Homo sapiens: one gene and its partner. The protein of the gene in region 1 interacts with the protein of each later gene in a pairwise test. Each region holds a gene or a part of one and is shown on either strand. Other genes may lie near its edges. The genes, in order: KIAA1958 and FAM124B.

Evidence for each region.
Region 2: the proteins of KIAA1958 (region 1) and FAM124B interact in binary tests that used the Homo sapiens proteins (3 or more experiments, as listed by UniProt).

The regions. Positions count from the first base shown.
Region 1 is NC_000009.12:112,661,060-112,664,881, forward strand, and holds part of KIAA1958 (uncharacterized protein KIAA1958), read left to right. Parts: 3' UTR 1-3,822.
Region 2 is NC_000002.12:224,395,295-224,399,116, forward strand, and holds part of FAM124B (protein FAM124B), read right to left. Parts: intron 1-3,822.

The DNA of each region.
Region 1 (3,822 bases):
AAAACACAGATCCCCAAACTTTCTTTATTAAAGAGATTTGGAATATTTTTGTCAATGTATGACTTTTCAGCCACAATTACATGTCATCATTTTAGGATGGCACCAATACTTGGGACACGATGATTTAGGCACCCCACCAGGTAAGCAAACTCAGCATTAAGGATGTAGTTATAAAATTAGCGCATAATGGTAGGTAATGCAGTTTGAAACCATTTCACTCAGGTAAAATGCAACCTGACCACATTATTTAAAAATCAGCAGAATTTTCTAATAACTACTCTGAGTGCAACAACAAGTGAAAAAGGAGCTCAAAGAGTGCTCATTAAGAGTAACAATAATTTCTAGGGACCTTGACTTTGCATTTGAGGAAAATCTTGTGTAACTTTATTCCATTATGCTCCTAATATGCTTTCTAATCCCAAATTAAAACTCTAATACAAATTCATTTTGTAGAAGTCTTAAAATCAGTCCTCTTTCTTTTTGAAAACATTATTTTAGTATTTATTTTAATTAATTGGTTTCTTAAAAAATCATACACTAGTCATTGACATATGTAATACTTCCTTTACCAGAGAAGACTCAACCAATGCTGCCTTAAGATTTAATGTTATTCCCTTTTTAGTCACTGTGCATTTATAAGTTTGTTTACTAGTTGACCTTTCCTGAATAGAGATTAGTTTCGGCATTTCTCCATCTGTATATAAATAACAGGTAATATTTAATCATCAGTGTATGACTTGATATCACATAACGTTCTGGTGTGGTTTCCTGTAGTGATCTTAGGGTTTTGATTTAAAAGAAATACACAAAACATTAGGTACAATTTCCTTTAGTTTGCTAAACACCCAAAGGATATTTTGTTTTGTTGGTTCTGCACTTAAACTGAAATACAACCTATGTGAACTATTGGGCAAAGCCTGCAGCCTAATTAATTAAAACCTCCATTTTTATTTGAATAGATTCAAGTAGAAATTGCCGTTAGGAATCACTGGGATCTTTTCGGATTTTGACCTTTTCAAAGGTAGCAATAACTACTCCAGAGGTTGTAATCTTTCTGTTGGTAGTGGCTTTTCATCAGCTAAATAATCATCTCTGCCTCAAATGTGTTGCCTGTCACCTAGTTGATGTTCCATAAAATCCCTGGGTTCTGAAGTGAATTATTATAATTAATAATCAGGAGGGCGAATCTTCAGTGGCATCTGATGGAATGAAAGAACTGTGTCTGAGCAGCCTAAAAGCTGTTTGTGACATGCCACCTTGGGAAACAAGAGTGAGGAAGAAAACACAGTCATCAAGTGCCAGCGTGTGCCACCCATTGTACTAGGTACTTTATTATGCATTTATGTATATGTGTGTGTGTCTGTGTATACACACAAACACATATACATAAGTGTTTACACACACACACGCACAATATGTGGTTAAGCCTGGTAAGCCTGCTAAAATGGCAAAGCGGCCTGGCGCGTGGCTCACGCCTATAATCCCAGCACTTTGGGAGGCCAAGGTGGGCAGATCACTTGAGGTCAGGAGTTCAAGATCAGGACCAACATGGTGAAACCCCATCTCTACTAAAAATACAAAAATTAGCCGGGCGTGGTGGCAGGTGCCTGTAATCCCAGCTACTTGAGAGTCTGAAGCAGGAGAATTGCTTGAACCTGGGAGGCGGAGGTTGCAGTGAGCCGAGACCATGCCACTGCACTCCAGCCTGGGCAACAAAGCTAGACTCCATCTCAAAAAAAATAAAAAATAAAATGGCGAAGCACCTGTCCATGTGTTTGGCCAAAGCCGTCCTCCGAGGTCTTAAGGGGGCCAGAGTAGCAGTCCTCGTTGGCGTTCTAAGGCAGTTGTTCTGGCTTCCAGTCAGCTCTAAACCTTACCTTCTGGGGACTCCAGGATTTTCTGCTCTTGGCCTAATGCAAGAGAAAGGAGAATCCCCAGAGAAAGAAGTGGGGAGGTAAAGAGCGTTTTCTCCACTTACCTTTGGGTTTTTTATGCTCCCAAGTAGAAATAAATATCAAGAATTCACAGGTTGACTGAAGCACAAGTTGCCCCTGGGCTCTGTGTCAAGGCTGGTGGTACTGTAGGTGTTATGAGAGGACCCATAGGGTGTCCTTCAGGTGAGCTGTTGTCCACAGCACCTTTCATATCTGCTGTAAAGGGAGCCCTACTTTCTGTCTATCCCCCCCACCGCCGGCCCCCGGAATCTAAGCAGACTCCCTGTTGGAAGCTTACTCTGGCACAGAAGCTAGGATGTCACCTTAAAGGGTGTGATTCAATTGAATATAGTTTAGTGCGGTACCAGGCACATCATAAGCATGCAATAAATGTTAGCCAGCTTAGTTATAACTTTTGGTAATAATTAATATTATTTAACTAATTTGCATTATACCACTTATTTCTTCCATTATGGAGATTCTGTCTCCCTTAAACTGTTAAACTTGAAGAAGAAACCAAACATGATAATCTGGTCAAGTTAACACATTTTCGCCCATGAATTCTACCTCCAACACAGCCAAGCTCTGATACCTCAGATATAAGCAAAAACAAGTGAAGGAAGAACAGAAAAGCCTTATGGGGCTTTATGAGAAGGTTTTTCCATTGTTTAGTGTGTTTGCAAAAAGGAATTTTATGGAAGTACCTAACCAAAGCTGTGACAGAAGGGTCTCCTTGGTCATGTGGCATTTTCCAGCTTTCCTTGGATTTTATGCTACATTAATTTGCCCTGGCTGATAAATGGTGTTTGAAGAAATGTGAAATTTTGTTACTTTGATTTTTATTTTAATTCAAGCTTATTAAAAGCATCAAGCATTATATGCCACACTCAGCATTTTCATAGACATAGTCATTAGGAGAATCTGGACAAAGTAATACTCTTGTAGAAACGGAAGCATCTTGCTGTACTTGAAAGATAACTGGACTCAGAGCTACTTCACTCCTCACTTGGGCAAATGCCGATATCACTTTGCTTAGCTATAAAGTGCCATCAGTGGGATGGATCGTCTTCACGGTGAACCGTGTTACACTTCTGCAATTCCTCAAGTTCATATTAATTAGGAAGTGGCAGAGCTAGGACACAAAATTCCTAATTCCTGAAGATAGTTAGTCTCCTAATTAAGTGCTTCTCACTATATTGGGATGCCTTCTTTAGGAATAAGACTTTCCTTTAATTTTCAAGTTCCACAACTTCTAAAATTATTTTGCTATCTCGAAGCAGCAGAATATTGATCATTTTTCTCAGTTTAGGCTAACACAGTCCACACCATTACCACTTAAATAAAGTAACCGAATGCTAAATATTATCCTTATCAAACATCCATCACTTTGTTGCTTTTATGAGATGTAGATTGCTAAAAACTTTTGAGCTAGTAGACGTTACCTTTAAGCATCAATGAATGCAAACAGTGAAGACCTCAAAGAAGAGTTACCTCATTTTCTCTACATGATCTCCAATGTAGTCTCAGATAAGGCCCATACATAGTTAAAAGCTGGTAACAGCTCTGAACAGAAGTATGTATTAAATGTTTCAAACTTGTATATATTTTTGAATGCTTTTGTTTTTGGAGTGAATTTTTAATACTCTGTGTTAAAAGAAAAACATTCCATCTTGTAGGCAGTGTTCCTCAGTAAAAATCTTTGTTGCATTTTCCCATATAAATGAATCACCCTTATTAAAACAGGAGGAGGGAGGGATTTGTGGTGACCTACCGCTGCCCTCCCTTTCTAAGAGAAGAGGAGGCCATGGGGTATGATAACTAAATGAACATCTCTGGAAGTTCCTCCGTCTGATATGTGTATTCTGACATAACAGAATTTCCCAAGACT
Region 2 (3,822 bases), on another chromosome or scaffold:
TTGGACACGGGTCTCAGCTGTGGAAAGCTGAAAGCCAGCAGTAGTTGACTAGAGATACTGCAGCATGTGGTTGATTTGACAAAATAGCTAATTTGACTGAGGGCACAGTTTAAGTTGCAGGAGGTTTAAAAAAAGAGGCGGACATCATCACCCATGCTACCTTCCCCCAGAACACACTGACACTGTCACTACCACCAGAGGCAAAAGCACAGGGAGAAAAGCAGAGGGACTGTTTGAACGAATAAAGGGAAGGTTGAACCCACTATCATTTTGCACCCACTAAGAATTGAGACAGCAGAATTAAAACTGCCAAAGGAAAAACAATGTCTGGCCCAGAGCAAGAACTCAACAAAGTTCTGAGGAATGAATAAACATGGACTTGCCTTCTCATGTACTCATACATTCATTTACTGAACATCTATTTGATATGCTCATATCGCTGTCATCAAAACCACCCATTCTAGACTCTGAGAGGCATCAGACTGTCTGCAATGGCAAGAGGTCATGTGGAAAACGCATTGCTCACTGGGCGCGCTGGCAGAGACAGCTGACAGCCTCTCACATGCACAGATCACAATTGCACCGCAGTTACATGGTCTCCAGGAGCTTCTACTTTACCAAGCACCACCATGTACATTCTCTCATTTGACCCTCATAACACAAATAATCCATGTCAGTTCCATTCATAGGACTCATCAGTGACTGCTCATTTCACCAAGGATAGAATAGAAGCTACTTAGCCAGGGTTCATTTGTAGAAGGATGTTTTTGCCTACCATGTGCCAGACACTGACCTTAGGTTCTAGGTTCACAGGAGTGAGCCCAAAAAGTCCCCCCGCTCTTGGTACTTACATTCCAGTGGCTGACCACATTCCCACTGATCTAGCCTCAGGCCACCTGCCCATCCTCTTCCCCTGACTCCCCCTCCCTTCACTCCAGCCACATGAAACCTCAGGAAGTTTGCTGAGCATGGCCTGCTAAGCAGCACCACACCAACATCGTCACCCACGGTCACCTGTTTGAGACACCCTTGCTCCCTTCTCCAACTGGCTAATTCCTCCTGGGCCACCCAGCTCACGCAGATCTGGGCATTGCTACTCAGGAAAGCTTTCTCACTGCCCCTCCTCGGCCTAGCTCCCCTCACACTCAGGTCTTCTGCACACACGCCTCCATCCTGGCCATGTGGAGGGATGGTCTGCAGAGAGGTTAGTTTGTGGTTATGGTTCTTCCTTTAATAGGTATAATTTTCTTACTTTTGCTGAACATCAGCCATTTGGGACCACTCTGTATTTGTCTCCTCCGCCCTGATCTTCTCTGGAGACCCACAACCTTCCCTAAAAGTCCCACAGAACACCACACAGCATCTAGGGGTAGAAGCCAGAGCCTTTGCCTCGGGGCTAAACTGATCCATATAATCTCACTTTCCTGCACGTAATAATTGATTTAGAGAAGAGAATCTGATCCTAGTTGGTCTAACTGAAGTCCAGACATTTTGTTGCGCCATGGTGGGGCAAGGCACTTGGAATCCACATGAAGGATGTAACCCTCAGAGCTGCTAGCAGCCAGCTGGCGACCCTGGCGGATGCCTGGCTGAGGATAGGGCCAAGACAGTGATAACAGAGCTGGGATCTGGATCCTGAGCACACTGTGTAAGGCCTGGACTACTCACTTACAGAAGCCAGACTCGCTACCCAGCCCCTCTCCCCAGGACCCAAGGAAGTTTAGGCTGGATTTTCTTTTCTTTTCTTCTCTTCTCTCCTCTTTTCTTCTTTTCGAAACAGAGTGATATGGTTTGGCTGTGTCCTCACCCAAATTTCATATTGAATTATAACTGCCACAATTCCCATGTGTCGTGGGAGGAACCCAGTGGGAGGTGATTGAATTATGGGAGTGGGTCTTTCCTGTGCTGTTCTCGTGATAGAGAATGAGTCTCATGAGATCTGATGGTTTTAAAGATGAGAGTTCTCTGCACAAGCCCTCTCTTTGCCACCTACTGCTATCCATGTAAGATGTGACTTGCTCCTCTTTGCCTTCCGCCATGATTTTGAGGCCTCCCCAGCCACATGGAACTATGAGTTCATTAAACCTCTTCTTTTGTAAATTGCCCAGTCTCGGGTATGTCTTTATCAGCAGCGTGAAAACAAACTAATAGAGTAAATTGGTATCAGTAGAGTGGGGCATTGCTGAACAGATACCTGAAAATGTGGAAGCGACTTTGGAACTGGGTAACAGGCAGAGGTTGGAACAGTCTGGAGGGCTCAGAAGACAGGAAAATGTGGGAAAGTTTGGAACTTCCTAGAGATTTGTTGAATGACTTTGACAAAAATGCTGATAGTGATATGAACAATAAGGTCTAGGCTGAGGTGGTCTTAGATGGAGATGAGGAGCTTATTGGGAACTGGAACAAAGGTGACTCTCATTATGTTTTAGCAAAGAAACTGGCGGCATTTTGCCCCTGCCCTAGAGATTTGTGGAACTTTGAACTTGAGGGAGATGATTTAGGGTATCTGGCAGAAGAAATTTTTAAGCAGCAAAGCATTCAAGAGGTGACTGGGGTGCTATTTAAGGCATGAGTGAACAGTGAATTAATTCACTCATAGTAAATGAGTCTCCCAATATCTGATGGTTTTAAAAACAAGAGTTTTCTGCACAAGCTCTCTTTGTCTGCCGCCATCCATGTAAGATGCGACTGCTCCTCCTTGCCTTCTGCATGATTGTGAGGCTTCCCAAGCCACGTGGAACTGTGAGTCCAATTAAACCTCTTTCTTTTGTAAATTTCCCAGTCTCCAGCCTGTCTTTATCAGCAGTGTGAAACAGACTAATACACAGAGTCTTGCTCTGTCATCTAGGCTGGAGTTCACTGGCACAATCTCGGCTCACTGCATCCTCTGCCTCCCTGGTTCAAGCGATTCTCCTGCTTCAGCCTCCCGAGTAGCTGGGACTACGGGTGCACACCATCATGCCCAGCTAGTTTTTGTATTTTCAGTAGACAGGGGGATTTACCATGTTGGCCAGGCTGGTCTCAAGCTCCTGGCCTCAAGTGATCCACCTGCCTCAGCCTCCCAAAGTGCTAGTATTACAGGCCTGAGCCACCACGCCCAAGAATTTTCTATCCTGAAAAATTCACTCCATTCAAAGAATCAAAAGCTATCTAGGAGCTACAATGTGTTGTCTTTGGATTATGGCTGAGCCTTTACACACTTTCCTCAGGCACTTTTATTATATGACACCAGAAGCAGAATTTTCCAGAAGGCGATCTCTCACTCTGTTTGCAAAAGCTTAGACTCATTGACTTAACAAGAGGAGATCAAAGCGTGTTTTGGAGTGAGGAAGCAGAAGTCTCTGAGGTTTGGAGGTCAGGACAAAGGTGATGTCCAAGGGGGCTATCAAGAGTGAGAGGCAGCTGGGCGTGGTAGCTCATGCCTATAATCCCAGCACTTTGGGAGGCTGAGGCAGGTGGTCACTTGAGGCCAGATGTTTGAGACCAGCCTGGGCAACATAGTGAAACCCCATCTCCACTAAAAATACAAAAATTAGCTGGGCATGTTGGCAGGCACCTGTAGTCTCAGCCACTTGGGAAAGCTGAGGCACAAGAATTGCTTGAACCCGGGAGGCAGAGGTTGCAGTGAGCTGAGATCACACCATTGCACTCCAGCCTGAGCAACAGAGAGAGACTCTGTCTCAAAAACAAAAGAGTGAGGGGCTGATGCCCCATTCACACCTGAGAAGTGGCCAGGCTCCTGGGACAATCCAGAGAGGAAGAGGGCTCTTTTCATACAATTCATGGAGTTTCTCTTTATCCAAAAAACTCTTCTACACTCCC